2 linked regions of the Homo sapiens genome follow. The gene in region 2 interacts genetically with the main gene of each other region. Each region holds a gene or a part of one and is shown on either strand. Other genes may lie near its edges.

The links.
Region 1: of SMARCAL1 (region 2) and TOP1, changing one suppresses a phenotype caused by changing the other (phenotypic suppression), as found in Homo sapiens cells (one study listed by BioGRID).

What each region holds. Positions count from the first base shown.
Region 1 is NC_000020.11:41,094,813-41,101,837, reverse strand, and holds part of TOP1 (DNA topoisomerase 1), read right to left. Parts: intron 4,619-7,025; coding exon 4,497-4,618; intron 3,845-4,496; exon of another isoform or gene 3,624-3,844; coding exon 3,501-3,623; exon of another isoform or gene 3,014-3,500; intron 1,783-3,013; coding exon 1,595-1,782; intron 1,181-1,594; exon of another isoform or gene 1,046-1,180; intron 667-1,045; exon of another isoform or gene 630-666; coding exon 485-629; intron 1-484. UniProt on the Homo sapiens protein: Releases the supercoiling and torsional tension of DNA introduced during the DNA replication and transcription by transiently cleaving and rejoining one strand of the DNA duplex.
Region 2 is NC_000002.12:216,408,237-216,415,497, reverse strand, and holds the start of SMARCAL1 (SWI/SNF-related matrix-associated actin-dependent regulator of chromatin subfamily A-like protein 1), read right to left. Parts: upstream 3,015-7,261; 5' UTR 2,850-3,014; intron 2,734-2,849; exon of another isoform or gene 2,700-2,733; intron 1,643-2,699; 5' UTR 1,606-1,642; intron 852-1,605; 5' UTR 794-851; coding exon 1-793. UniProt on the Homo sapiens protein: ATP-dependent annealing helicase that binds selectively to fork DNA relative to ssDNA or dsDNA and catalyzes the rewinding of the stably unwound DNA. Rewinds single-stranded DNA bubbles that are stably bound by replication protein A (RPA).

The DNA.
Region 1 (7,025 bases), on a different chromosome or scaffold from region 2:
TGAGACTGCAGGAAGCCAGAAGTATGTAAGACATTAGATTTTACAACTTGTTTCAGGATATACAGAAACTACATTCCCTTCTCATAACCAAGAGAGGTGAGGAAGTAGAAGACATCTGCAGAGGCCAATATACAATCACCATACTTCAACACATTCTGACCACTGGACGTTAAGCAATATGAAGGCAGGGCCTACGTCTATCTTGTTTACCAACATAATTCCTAGCATCAAATGTATACTGTGTGGGGCACATTTGGGATTTCAGTAAATATTTGTGAATTAATAAATAAGATTACAATGTGACCAAAAAAATGGAGGCACTGTAGGAAGATCACCATAATGCTAACTATGAAAGTACTTGCCTTCTTTCAATGGGGAGGATTTTTAATTTGTCAAAGTGATTCTAGAGGACGAGAACGTTACATTTCAACAAAAAAAGGTTATCAGCACCATGAACCAGTGCAGCTCTCAACTATCCCCTTACCTTGATTCGTGAACTAGGGTTAAGCATGATGTATTTAATGGAACCTTGGATGTTCTCTGTCCAGGAAACCAGCCAAGTAACCTTGTTATCATGCCGGACTTCTTTCCACTTATGTCCTGGAGGAGGAGAAGGAACCTTGGCATCTCTGGAAATAACAGAGCACGAGGATAGTGAAATAAGATGTGAGGAATAATTTCACCTTTCATGACCCCAAGTGGACCTATCTGCTGAGCATAATTTTCCAAGTTTCCTTCTTAACAGTCAATACAGTAGTCCCACCTTATGCATGGTTTTACTTACCCTCAGCCAACTGTCATCCGAAAATATTCAATACAAAATTCCAGAAATAAACATTTTGTAAGTTTTAAATTGCACATCATTCTGAGGAGCATGATGAAATCTCTTGTAGTCCCACCTGGGATGCGTGAACCATATATACAACATACCATGCTGTATATGTCACTTGCCCATGGGTAACCTAGTAGCTGCCTTATTTATCAGGTTGACTTTAATGGTTTTACATTGCTTGTGTTCAAGTAATCCTTCTTTTACTTAATAAAGGCCCCAAAGTGTGAAAGTGGTGATGTTGGCAATTTGGATATGCCATACAGAAGCTGCACAGAGTGCTTTAAATGAAAAGGTGGAAATTATCGACTTAATAAAAAAAACTGTATGGTGAAGTTGCTAAGATCTAAGGTAAGAATTAACCTTCCATCTGTGAAATTGTGAAGAAGGAAAAAGAAAGTCGTGCTAGTTTTGCTGTTGTGCCTCAGACTGCAAAAGTTATAGCCACTCTATGTGATAAGTACTTAATAAACATGGAAAAGACATTAAATTTGGGGGTGGAAGACATCAACAGAAATGTGTTCCAAGTGACAGCAATTGGGTCGAAGTTGCAGGCATCCACTGGGGGTCTTGGAACATATCCCCTGTGGATGAGGGGAGACAACTGTACCTCAAAAACATCTGGAGACCTACGCATGAAATACTGTCCTGCTCTTAAGTATCTCCCTTCCCAAACAGTCCTGTGTAACCTGGGAAATATTCCCAAGTACAATAAAGGACGCCCTCCACCCCCTTTTTGGCCCATAGGATGAAGTGCGAGCTCACTTGCTACAGTTGATGATTATATCCTCGGGCATGATTCGTCTCTTCAGCATGCCCATCTTGGGGTGGTTGCCGCGGCCACGGAAAAGTCCAGGAGGCTCTATCTTGAAGTTAGCAATCCTCTCTTTGTGGTTATCCATAATACAGAATCCATATTCTTTCAGTAATTTTTCATTCTCCTCTTTGATTTTCTGGAAGACAGCAAGAAAGTACTCAAAATAGATTCAGATTGCTGTTCTCTACTAATGCATTTTATCTCTTGTGGGAGACTAAGTCAAGGTAGAGGAAAGTCTGAAAAATCACTAAAAAATAAATTCAAATAAAGGAAAACCTCTAGTGGTTTTCTCAAACTTAAATATCATAAAATTCCCCAAAAAGATCTGCCTATAAGGATTGATTTCAACTAGATTCAAAACTGATTCTTGTGTCTTAAAGGATATATGTTTGTAAATGTTATTTGGGTGTTTTTAAATGTACTTTAAAAATTCATACTGTTTTACTGAGTACTATCAAAACAGGAAATGGAGAAGAGTCTCTGATAGAGCCTCATAAAAGAATAGCTCAAGCCATTTAATTAAACAGCAGTTAAACAGCTTAAAAACGTGGGTTTTTAAGCTCAGACAGATCTGTCACTAATTTTTTTGTAGGTATACAGGTATATACACTCTATACTATGATCCTTGCTCCAAAAAGGTGAGGGATGGTGGGGGAGATTTTGAGCCTCCTTACCCTCTATTGACTCTGCGTTTTATATACTTATTGATTCAGTTTAACTAAGTTGTGCTGCCTTGTGGGTGGGAACAGATTCAGACCTTGCTGGCAGCAGGTGTCCTTGGCAGAGGCTCTGACAAGGGGATGTTTATAAAATCTATCTTTGGATCAATATTCTAAGAACAAAGCTCCAAAGTGATCTTTTAAGTTTCAAAATGCCCCTGAAGTAAATAATATACTAAATTTCACTAACTTGGAATATTGAGGATAAGATTTACCTGAGACACAAAGTCTGATGCAATTAACATTCTTATAGTAATGCATTAATTTTTAAACTAGTGACCAAATAAGTACCATGAAACAATGAGTTATATCAATACAATGGTCTGAATTACGTAAACACGCAAGTCCTTTAAAATACTGAAACTACAGGAATTTGAAGTGCAAAGAATTCCTTAAAATCCTTAACTTCTGGACTTCCGATTGGTAAAAATGAAATTCTAGCCTGGATTCCTTTAGTTCAGGGGCTGACAACTTTTTCTAGATAGAAAATATTTTAGGCTTGAGTGCCACACAGTCTCTTTTGCAACTACTCTCTTTTGCAACTACTCATCTCTGTCATTGTTGCATAAACACAGCCGTAGATAATATGTAGACAAGTAGAGGCAGCTGGTTCCAATAAATTTTTTTTTTTTTTTTTTACAAAAACAGGCAGCCTGTAGAAGAAAAATGACATCCCAGCTGGATACCAGAAAGATCCTTCAGTAATGAGGATGGCCAAGGCTGGAAGATGGAGATGGATGAGCATCACAAGATTCCAGAGTAAAATAGATCAAAGAGCAGGGAGGTACATGGCCAATATGATTTCATCTGTCTTAAATCCTTAATATCCAGTAGCCACTGTGGGACAGGTCTGCCCATCCTTAATTACTATATTATTGGCTGGAGTTACTGACTGGTTTTTAGGTCACTGAAGCACCAAGATTCCTGTACAGAGCTACTGAGCAAAGTACTTGTTCACAATTTTCAGTCTAACTAAAACCTTTAAGAAAATTTAGACTTTGAGAACTCTAAGTCTTTAGCATAGAATGATGTGAAATTACTGATGTTAATGTTGTGTCATAAGAACCAAGAAGAAAGTTAAATGAACCAATCACAATTCCAGAATTCTCCAGAGGTTTAATAAATTCTGTAGTACCAGTTTCTCTTCCTTGCTCATCTGTTTCCGAGCTTCCGTCTGGGCTTTGAAATACTGGCTCATCTGGGTAAAATCACATTTGCTTAGGTTGGTGATAATATTCTTCTCTTCATTAGTCATTTCCTAGTCAAAAGAAAATGGGGAGATGAAAGAAAAACAACGAAAATACACTAATAAGTCCTTGGGTTTCTTTGCAAATACACCCAAGCACCATTTTTTCAGTCAAAGGTTTCTGGAAGTAGCCAATCTCAATTAATGAATTTTGAAAAAACAAAAAAATACAGTTGTATTACTTTATTATAAAATATGTACTTACTAATATTAAAATGTTTTAAAATGACTTATCATGGAAAAAAATGAATTCTTATGTGGTTTCTTAGACTCCGTGGCACACAGCCCCCAGGCATTATGAATACAAGTTTGAAATCCCATACTGATTCTCTCTTGGAAACATTACCCCTATTCTATTCATTTATTAAGTCTGCTTTTTCTGAGCTAGTTCAGGAAGTAAACTTTACTGCTGCCTCTGTCCACATTATCCAAATTGAGAATAATGAGATTTTAAAAAATCACCTAGGCAAATATAGTATATGTGGTTTCAAGAGTAGAAAGTACCTAAAATAAATGAGCAAGAATTAACAGCGAGAGGGACATCAGATTAACATTTCTCTTTGCAACAGCAGACACGGGGCAGTCCTGCAGCGACAAACTTTCCTGTGCGCAACTGGAGTTGAGGTTTTCTGTTTGGCCTAATCTGATAACCCCCACCTACCTGCCATCACATGAGAGCCAATAGCAAAGATATACAAGTACTCTTGTTGGACAGAAACCCTACATAATATAGTAAATGAAGACAAAAAATACGCAAGTTTAAATACAACAAAATCCATACAACTCAAATTTTACATCAGGAAATGTTTTGCAAAATGATAATTTATTACTTAGTACTTGATTGTTTTGCAAGGTACTAGGATATTAACACATGGGCTACAGTACCTTTCTCCAGTCTTTAAAGAAATTTTTCCTAAATATTTCCTTGGTAGTATATTCATGGTCGAGCATTTTTGCAAAGAACGTAGCTACTTCCTCTGCTTTGGGGCTCAGCTTCATGACTTTACCTAGAGAAAAAAGTGGTTCCAAAAAGTGAGGTATAGTATTCATGTTCTAAGCATAAATACCCAGGGCTAGCGAATTCTCTTTAATAATGGTTTGCCTTCTCATGGTATATAAAGGTCTGGTGACACATAGTAGCAACAACAACAAAGACAACATACTGATTTATATCTACTTGTACAAATTCTCCTTCTCTTTAGCATATATTTACCTGGGTCATTCTCTGGAGACTATGCCAGTTAATTGTTCCCAGGTGCCTGCTCAGGACAGGGATGACCTGGGGGAGGCCCAGTCACTCTTCCTTTTCCTTTCAGCAAGCAGGGTCCTTTACACCTCTTCAATGGTTTTTAAAAATCAAATCCTCAGAGGGACTCCTGCCACTGCTAAGCTAAGCAGCCTCTGTTCAAGAAGGGGAGGAAGGGATAGGGCAGGGAGTGGAAGAAAGGAATTGTGGGGAAAAGAAATAGGCATCTTTCTTCTTCAAAGTTAGGTGGGTGGAATATGAATAAAAAAATATATATCCATACTAGGCAAGCCCAGATTTCCCATATGAAAAGCCTAATAAGACCTTCTTCTAGAACTTTGCTATTCAACAAGTGGTTCACAGACCAGCAGCATTGGCATCATGTGGGAGTTTAGAAATGCAGAATCCCAGGCCCCCTCCTAGACCTACTGAATCCTATACAGAAATTGCATTTTTAACAAGACTTGGATGCACACTAGAGTTTGCGACACACTGCTCTGGAACATGGGTACCATGATGCTGCCTCTTTCAGGGAACCAGGATGCATCCACAGCACAAGGGATGACTGGGGTTCCTGGTGTATCCAATTGTTTATGTAAAAGCTGTCTAAAGGGGCTGGGAGCAGTGGCTCATGCCTGTAATCCCAGCACTTTGGGAGGCTGAGGCAGGCAGATCACTTGAGGTCAGGAGTTCCAGATCAGCCTGGCCAACATGGCGAAAACCCATCTCTACTAAAAATATAAAAAATTAGCCGGGCGTGGTGGTGGGAGCCTGTAACTCCAGCTACTCAGGAGGCTGAGGCATGAGAATCGCTTGAACCCAGGAGGCAGGGGTTGCAGTGAGCCAAGATCACGCCACTGCACTTCAGCCTGGGCAACAGACTGAGACTGTCTCAAATAAACAAAAAGCTGTCTAAAGGGACTCAGATGTTTTCACAATGAAAGCTGCTAACTGGTAAAGAAAATCTGAATAGGGCCTATGGGTTTTATATACCTGATTTAGTTAATAAAGCAATGAAAGAAAAGTACTTGGGAATTTAATCCACTTTTCAAACAAATGCTTTTGACAGTACTCTTAGTGCCAATTTCCATTCTTTCTTAAAAATCCAACTTTACAACATCACCTCGAACCAATCCATGCTATACTAAGAGCATTTGGCTATACTTAAAATGAGGTTAACTATAATTCCACCACCTTACTATTACACAGGTATTAATAATTCACCAAGGCTGCCCACATTCTTTATAGAAAACTAAAATTTAACCAGAAATCCATTTATTTCAAAACTCAGAAGACATCTTATCTCATAATGATATGCAATCTGACTTTGCAGGGGTGTAGAGAACTGTAGCACAATATTGAAACAGTTATAATAGAAAGAACCCACTTTGGACGCCATTAACTTAAAAGGCCAACAGGTGGCGCAGCTGCCCCCATCAACCCCCAAGCTTCTGCTTTGGAAGAAAGACACTTCGGGGAAGATAGGCTGTGTATTAAAAGATTCCCTGAACTTCTTTAGAAAACTGTAACATGTTTCCAATATAAAGGAAAACATTAAGTCATTAGGAATAAAATAAATGAAATAAAATGGCAAGAAAAAAATGTAAACTGTTAACACCATTTAAAAAAAAATGTGGCTGAGCATGGTGGTTCACATCTGTAATCCCAGCACTTTAGGAGGCGGTGCAAGGATCACTTCAGGTCAGGAGTTCCAGACCAGCTTGACCAACATGGTAAAACCCTGTCTCTATTAAAAATACAAAACTTAGGTGTGGTGGCACGTGCCTGTTAATTTCAGCTACTTGGGAGGCTGAGGCATGAGAATCGTTTGAACCTTGGAGGTGGAGGCTGCAGTGAGCCAAGATTGTGCCACTGCACTCCAGCCTGGGTGACAGAGTGTGACTCTGTCTCAAATAAATAAATATAAAAATAAATTTAAAAAAAATGAGATTTTGGGCTGTTTTACTGAATTCTGTCCTAATAGAGGGAGAAGCAACTGTGACTCCTCCTATTTTAGATGAGCTGTCAAAAGATGAAATGATGGCTCCCTGCATCAGAGTAGTGGGAGGATGACTGGAAGGTTCCTGGCAATGTTAACACTTTGTGGAAAAGGCTGAGCTCCAGGAAAAGGAAACTGCTGAATCAAAGCTGTAAACTGAAGGTCCTCA
Region 2 (7,261 bases):
GGGTCTTAAACACTGCAATGAGTTCCGCATTGTACCCAATCAACACCTGGAAACGATCGCCGTTCCTTACGCACTTTCCCTTCTGAGAGTTCACTCCTTTTTGGACTGAGGACCCTGACTTCTGCTGGAGTCTTCCTTCTGTCCTGGGCGTTACACTCTCTGAGCTAGAATGGATGTAAGAAATGTTCTGCCCCGAAGGGGAGGCTTTTGCTGTCTTGGCCTCTAACTTAGCATCCCTGGGAGGCTGTCCAGAGGAATGAGCTGGTGTCTCTTGGGAACTCTTTGGTTTGGCCAGAGGCTTATGAGTTGGGTTAGCAAAGGGTGTGAACCTGATCTCAGGTGAAGCCTGAGCATGACCTTGACCTAACTCATAACTCAAGAGCTGTTGTTTAGGGACCTCTGGAGGACTTTGTGCCAAGGGAGGAGAGATTCCAGTGAGAGCCATTTGACTACGTGGACTGTGGCCTGGGCAGGCTGTGGGCATTTCTTCTGGCTTTTTCCATATTCCCTTTGCCTGAAAACTGTGGGAATCATGAGGTCTTTGGTCAGCATTAGATGAGCTACTGAGATTCTGTTGCTTGAAAATGACACCATGGCTCACTGGCTTACAAGACTCCCTTGGGAAATTTTGGGATGGGCCTTGCTTGGCCTGGAATGGGTTGCCAGCAATGGAGGTGCCCGAGCTAGTCCTCTGATGCTGTTCTGCCAATAACTTCTCAGCTCTGCGGGCCAGAGCCTTTTGTCGATTCTCTTCAATCTTTTTCCTCTGCTCCTCTGTAAGAGGCAAGGACATTTTCACAGAGAAATGCTTATGCAGGAATGTCAACCTTTAATTGGAAAGTTGGCAAAAGCTGTGGAAGAAAGTAAGAAGAATGAAATGAACATTACATGTATTAATTGTCATACTCCAACCATGATTTTAACAAGCTTTTGTCCCAGAAAATGCATAATGAGCACAACTAAAGGATGTATTAAAGTTTCTTTTATAATTGCACACACACTGAAATAGTAGGCAGCATATGCTGAAATAAAGACCCTGATCAAAAAGCAAAAAGCAGGTCGGGTGTAATCCCAGCACTTTGGGAAGCTGAGGCAGGTGGATCACTTGAGGTCAGGAGTTTGAGACCAGCCTGGCCAACATGGTGAAACCCCATCTCTACTAAAAATACAAAATTAGCCAGGCGTGGTGGTGCACGCCTGTAATCCCAGCTACTTGGGAGGCTGAGGCAGGAGAATTGCTTGAACCTGGGAGGCAGAGGTTGCAGTAAGCCAAGATCGTGCCACCGCACTCCAGCCTGGGCAACAAGAACAAAACTCTCAAAGAAAAAAAAAAAAGCAAAAAGCAAATCCAAAGCTAAAAAGGCATTTCAGAGGCAATATTTCTCTCCTTCTCACATGGTAACTCACATGGTAACTCAATGGTTCGAAGCACTGCCAAAATGGTGAGTAACTCTTCTGATAACTCACATGGCCCAGCCAAGGTGAGTTATCAGAACCTAAGAAAGTTATGCATTGCAACGTAAATCCATCAGATAATGAGAAAGGTGACATTTTTAACCAGAAAGCATAATAGATTAGACTGAAATAGACCAACCAACCACATACCATGGCGTGACACTTGCTAACATAGTCTTTTTCCAACCTAGAAGAAGGAAAAAAGCATTAGCCTCCCATAGCCTGCACACTGAATTCTCCCCTCACATTCACCCCTTTTTATCATTCCTGGCAAATCAGTCTGCCTGTGGCTCAGTGCAAGCCAGAGCAGCTGGCCTTAGGACCTGACTTCCAACACAACACACGGAGCAACTGACTGACTCTCCTGGGAAAATAAGGAGCAGAAAAAAAAAAATTATGTGTTCACTGTGCAAATTAAGATGCTACATAAAGATGTAAACAAAAAAGAATAAAATTACTCTGTAATCTTACCAGCCATCAATAACCACAGTTGAAATTAATAATTTAGAGTATATAGTTCGGATTTTTTTTCATCCATAACAAAATGGCACATATTTAGGAGATATAAGAATTTATTATAAAGTAGGATCATTGTAAACATTCCATATTGCACCCTGATTATTTTTTTCCATGAATTTACCCGGAACATTTATTTTCCTATGAGCTGAGACATGTTTACAATATTTTAGAAGCAGCGGGCAGGACACACCAATTTGTCTGGCTTGGTTCAGACTAAATAGGCTGCATCTAATGTAATGCTGTGTAACGGTTACAATGATGATGTAGGGGTACTCCAGTAGCATTGCTTAGGCCTCTGGGCAGCTATAGGGTTCAAAGCCTTCCTTCCCTGCTGGGGCTCCCTTTGGCCAGAACCCAACCCCCCTCCCCCCTCCCCCACCACGAAGTATCTATCCCCAGAGAACTTCCACCTTCTCCAACCATTAGCAGTTAGGAAGGGGTGAAGAGGTTAGGAAAAGGTTTTGGAGGTGCACAGCAGAAGCCCTCAGTCTCTCTGGGTAACACACTCCTGCCTAAGTTTCCAACCAGGGATCTCCTGCACCTCCAAACTCCCCAGATCCCAGGCCTGGTAAGCTGTCTCCACTAACCAGAGAGACTCGGCCATAAGACCCACTGATCAGCCCCAAACCATAAATCCATTCCGCCACATGGACGCCCCTCTTCCCCTCTAGGCAGGGACCTCTGCCCCCCGCCCCCCACGCCCCGCATTTCGGGGCGAGCCTCACCCAGCCTCAAGGTAAGCGGGCGCCACGCCCCACTCCCACCCCTACGATCTCCACTTGGATTCACCCTTCCCATTGGCCCACTTCCTCCTCCAGGCTGGCATTGGTCTCGTCCGCCTCCGCCGCCTTCCTGCCAGTCTACCACTTTCTCACCCAGGGAGGCCTAGAACGCGAGCCACATTCGCCCCCGGCCCTGACCCCAGGCGCGACTGCAGAGCCTCCCGAGCGGGACCGGTCTTCCGAGTGGACGGTTAGGCCACGGGTATTCAAGCGCTGCGAGTTCGCCAGCCTTATTGTAGCGGCCAGGCCTGAAGGGCTAGGCCACCGCTGAACTACATTTCCCAGCAGGCAACGCGGCCGCAGTTTCGCTTCCAAAAGTAAGAATGATGAGACGAGAACGCGAGCGGGGCTGCAGTGTCTTCTGGGATTTGTAGTTCGGGCCGGGAGCCTGGCGAGAAACGGGAGCTGCAACGTCATGGGCGGGGCGAAAGTGGTGCACCCTGGAAGTTGTAGTTCTCCAGAGGTTTAGCCAAACACTAGGTCCTGAAAGCCTAGGACGTTGAGGTTTCCAAACCCGGAGTCGGCTGTCTCCAGAGGACATCCCAGACAGCCATACTAACTTGGCAGCTCTTAATAAAAAGTATCTCCCCGGGGCATCCATTCCTGGTATTGCTATACTTGCCATTTAAGCCCCACCCGCTGCGCCCGGCTGCCATCATCGTCATCATTGTAGTCATCAGTCATTGTGTTTAGCATAAATATGAGTTACCTCATTTAACCGCACTACAACCTATGGAACACATTCTTGTCCCCCTTTTACAGAGGGGGAAACTAAGACAGCTATTTGATAATATTTCTCAAGGCTTTATTAAGCTAGCTTGTGATTCTGATTCCATAGCCCCTCCTCTTGAGAGAAGATTAGTCATGAGACTTAAAGAGTCACTTTACCCCATCCTGAGCACCAACATCCTGAGCCATCCTGAGCACCATTGGTGATAAATATAACATTTCTCTATCAGTGTGCATATGAATGTTGCTATTGTTCTATTTTCAAACATGGCTCATTTAAAAACAAACAAGTCTACTAAAGGATTTGAAAAAATGGACCAGACATGCTAAGAAAAAGGAAGCACAGCAATGTGTGTAGTTTGATTTTTTTTTTTTTCATCCTTACCTGTACATGTATGTAAACTCATAAAGGTCTGGGAAGGAAACTTAAAAAGTCACCAAACTGTTCAGGAGCAGAGTGGCATGAAATACACTTTTCAGCTTTTTAATCTCTATTTTTCAGAATGATTTGAATTTTCTAAAATAATAATGTAGAATTTGTGTGACTTTTGAAACAATAAATAATCTCCCTTCTTCCTTCCTTCCTTTTTTTTTTTTTTTTTTTTTTTTTTTTTTTTTTTGAGACAGAGTCTCACTCTGTTGCCTAGACTGAGTGTGGTGGTGTAATCTTGGCTCACTTCAGCCTCTGACTCCTGGGTTCAAATGATTCTCCTGCCTCAGCCTCCCAAATAGCTGGGATTATGGGTGCATGCCGCCATGCCTGGCTGATTTTAGTAATTTTAGTAGAGACAGAGTTTTACCATGTTGGCCAGGCTGGTCTCAAACTCCTGACCTCAAGTGATCCACCTGCCTCAGCCTCCCAAAGTGCTGGGATTACAGGTGTGAGCCACTGCGCCCAGCCCATTTGTCTTAAATGACAAAGACATTGCCTGTCTTAGGGGATCTGTGTGAGGTTTAGTAGTAGAAAGTATTCAAATCTCAGCTCTACCCCTTTTATTGACCTGACATACCCAGTGATTGTGCCTCCATTTTCTCATCTGTAAAGTAAATGTAGAAAACAATACCACCTTGGTAAATCTTGTTATTAGAATCAAAGCAAGGTATTATGAGGGGAAGTGCTTAGTGAACTGTGAAATCCCAGAACAGGTAAGAGAGGGATGTTGTTATTATTTGAGGTAAATCTCTTATATCGTCCGTTTCTCTATACCTAGCGCTCATTTCCTACTGTATAGTGTGAACAGAAACTAGTTAATGAACACCTGTCCCTGCCCTTCCTGTCTCCCAACAGTCAGTTAATTTACTAAGAAAGCTGGGTGCCGTGCACTTGACTCATGTCTGTCACCGATTCATATGACCATCACTTCGCTTTCCTGGGCCTCAGTCGTCTCACCTGTAAAATGATACCCTGCTTTGACATATGCTAAGAGGGCCTGTGGACCAGTGGATCCTCATGTTAGATACTAGAATTCTTATAGATTCACAGATCTTACCCCAGAAATTCCAATTCAGTAAGTCTGGAATTGAGTTAGAAGATGTGATTACCTTTCTAGCTCTAACATTCTAAAATTCTAAGAATAGGAAATTAAAATATGCCTTTGAGGCCGGGTGTGGTGGCTCATGTCTATAATCCCAGCACTTTGGGAGGCCAAAGCAGGCAGATCACCTGAGGTCAGGAGTTCGAGACTAGCCTAGCCAATATGGTGAAACCTCATCTCTACAAAACCCCATCTAATACAAAAAGTAGCTGGGCGTGGTGGTGCATGCCTGTAATTCCAGCTACTCAGGAAGCTGAGGCAGGAGAATCGCTTGAACCCTGGAGGCGGAGGTTGCAGTGAGCTGAGATCATGCCATTGCACTTCAGCCTGGGCAACAAGAGTGAAACTCCATCTCAACAACAAAAAAAAATGCATTTGGGGGGAATAATCATCTTCAGAAAGTAAACTAATTAGACCCCACTCAATAGTTGCATCTTTGCTTTGTCAGTAGCATCGTTTACTGAGGTCTTACTGTATGCAAGGCTTTTTAAAAAACTGTATTTCACCAGTTCTTAAGGTAGATTATAATGAAACTTCATTTAGTAAAAAAAGTTTAAAGGCCTGGAAGAAAACACAGGAAACAAGGAGTGAAAGGAGAGGAGAAGACAGCTGTAGCGGTCAAGCTGCAATTTGACTTTGAGCTTCCTAGCAGATAAGCAAAAATGTCCAGAAGTCATATAAGACCTTCAACCAAACACAGCACAGCTGAAGCTCCCAAACACTGGTCACCTGAGCAGTGCCAAAATGGTTCAGAGCATCACCTGGTTGCCTCAGAAACAAGCAAACAAAAGGATAATGTAATGAATATGTTGTAAAACTAAATTTTTACAATTAATTATAAAATCCTGAGAGTCTATTTAATAGGTTTTAAAGTTTAACTGGTTTTTCTTTAGTAAAGTGATGATTATTATAAATACCTTTATTGGGCAAAATAAAAATTTGTTTTTTCTTCCAAAACTTAATCCAATAATGTTTAGTCAGTGAAATCCAAAAAGCTGGCAGACACCACCATAAGGGAATCCAAAGATGAGTAAGGTCCAGTTTTTCTCCCTCCAAAAGGTTACAGTATTTGGAGAACAGAAGACAAATAACTAGAACAGCCAGATTTAACAAATGTCTCAAATATTTGTCCCAAATATTGTGTGGGACATACTTACACTAAAAATGGATTTAAACATATCTGAAATTCAAATGTAACTGGGCATACTGTATTTTACTCGACAGCCTCCTATTATTTGTAGCTCAGGACTTAGTTGAGCAGCAAGCAAATATGCATTGATAGATGATTCATGGATATATTGACACATTGCATTTTAAAGCTAGAAGGAGCTTTAGAGACCATCTGGTTTCATAGGTGAGGGAATAGAGGCCAGATCGGCTGCCAGTCCATATGGCACCTGTGTTAGTCTGCTCAGGCTACAAAAAAAAAAACAAAAAAAAAAAAACACCACTATAGACCGGGTGGCTTAAACAACAGAAATTTATCTTCTCACAATTCAGGAGGCTGCAAAGTCCAAGATCGAGGTGCCAGCCATTGATTTCTGGTGAGGACCCTCTTCCTCTCTATGTCCTTATGCAGTGGAGAGGGAGAGAGCACAGCCCCCTCTTGTGTCCCTTCTTAGGACGCTGATCCTGTCATATCAGAGTCTTGCCCTTAGGACCTCACTGAACCGTCATTCCCTCCTTGCAGGTCTTGTCTCCAAATATGGTCACAGTAGGGGTTAGGCCTTCAATATGTGAATCTCGGGAGGACACAGTTCAGTCCATAGCAGCACCTTTGTGTGTTGTAAAAACACACCCCTTTCTCCCAGGAAAGGAGCCTGGCTCCAGGACCCACTGCAAGCAGAGCATTGCCAGCCCCCAGCGGGGTGCCCCGGCCAAGTGGCAGTCTTGCTGCTTCCCCAGAAGAATACTTCGATTTTGCCAAAGCTACTTCCTCAGGTGGAAGAAATTGATTTCCCATCTCTCTGGAGTAATCATCCCTCCCCAATTCATGCAGACTTGGAAGAGTGTTAATCAGGGGGCCTCATCCTCGGGGAAGTCAGTGGATGCAAGATACGAGGGAAAACACCAGACCCCCTCCTTCTGGGAACTTAATCTGCAAGGATATGATACAATGAGAAAAAGACAACTGAACCGATATAGCCCAGCAGTGGCTTTGAATGGAGCCTGTTCCTTAGTTCCTGTCACCCAGCTTCGAGAGTCACCCTGACCCTGTTATTCCTGAGCCTTGATTTTGAT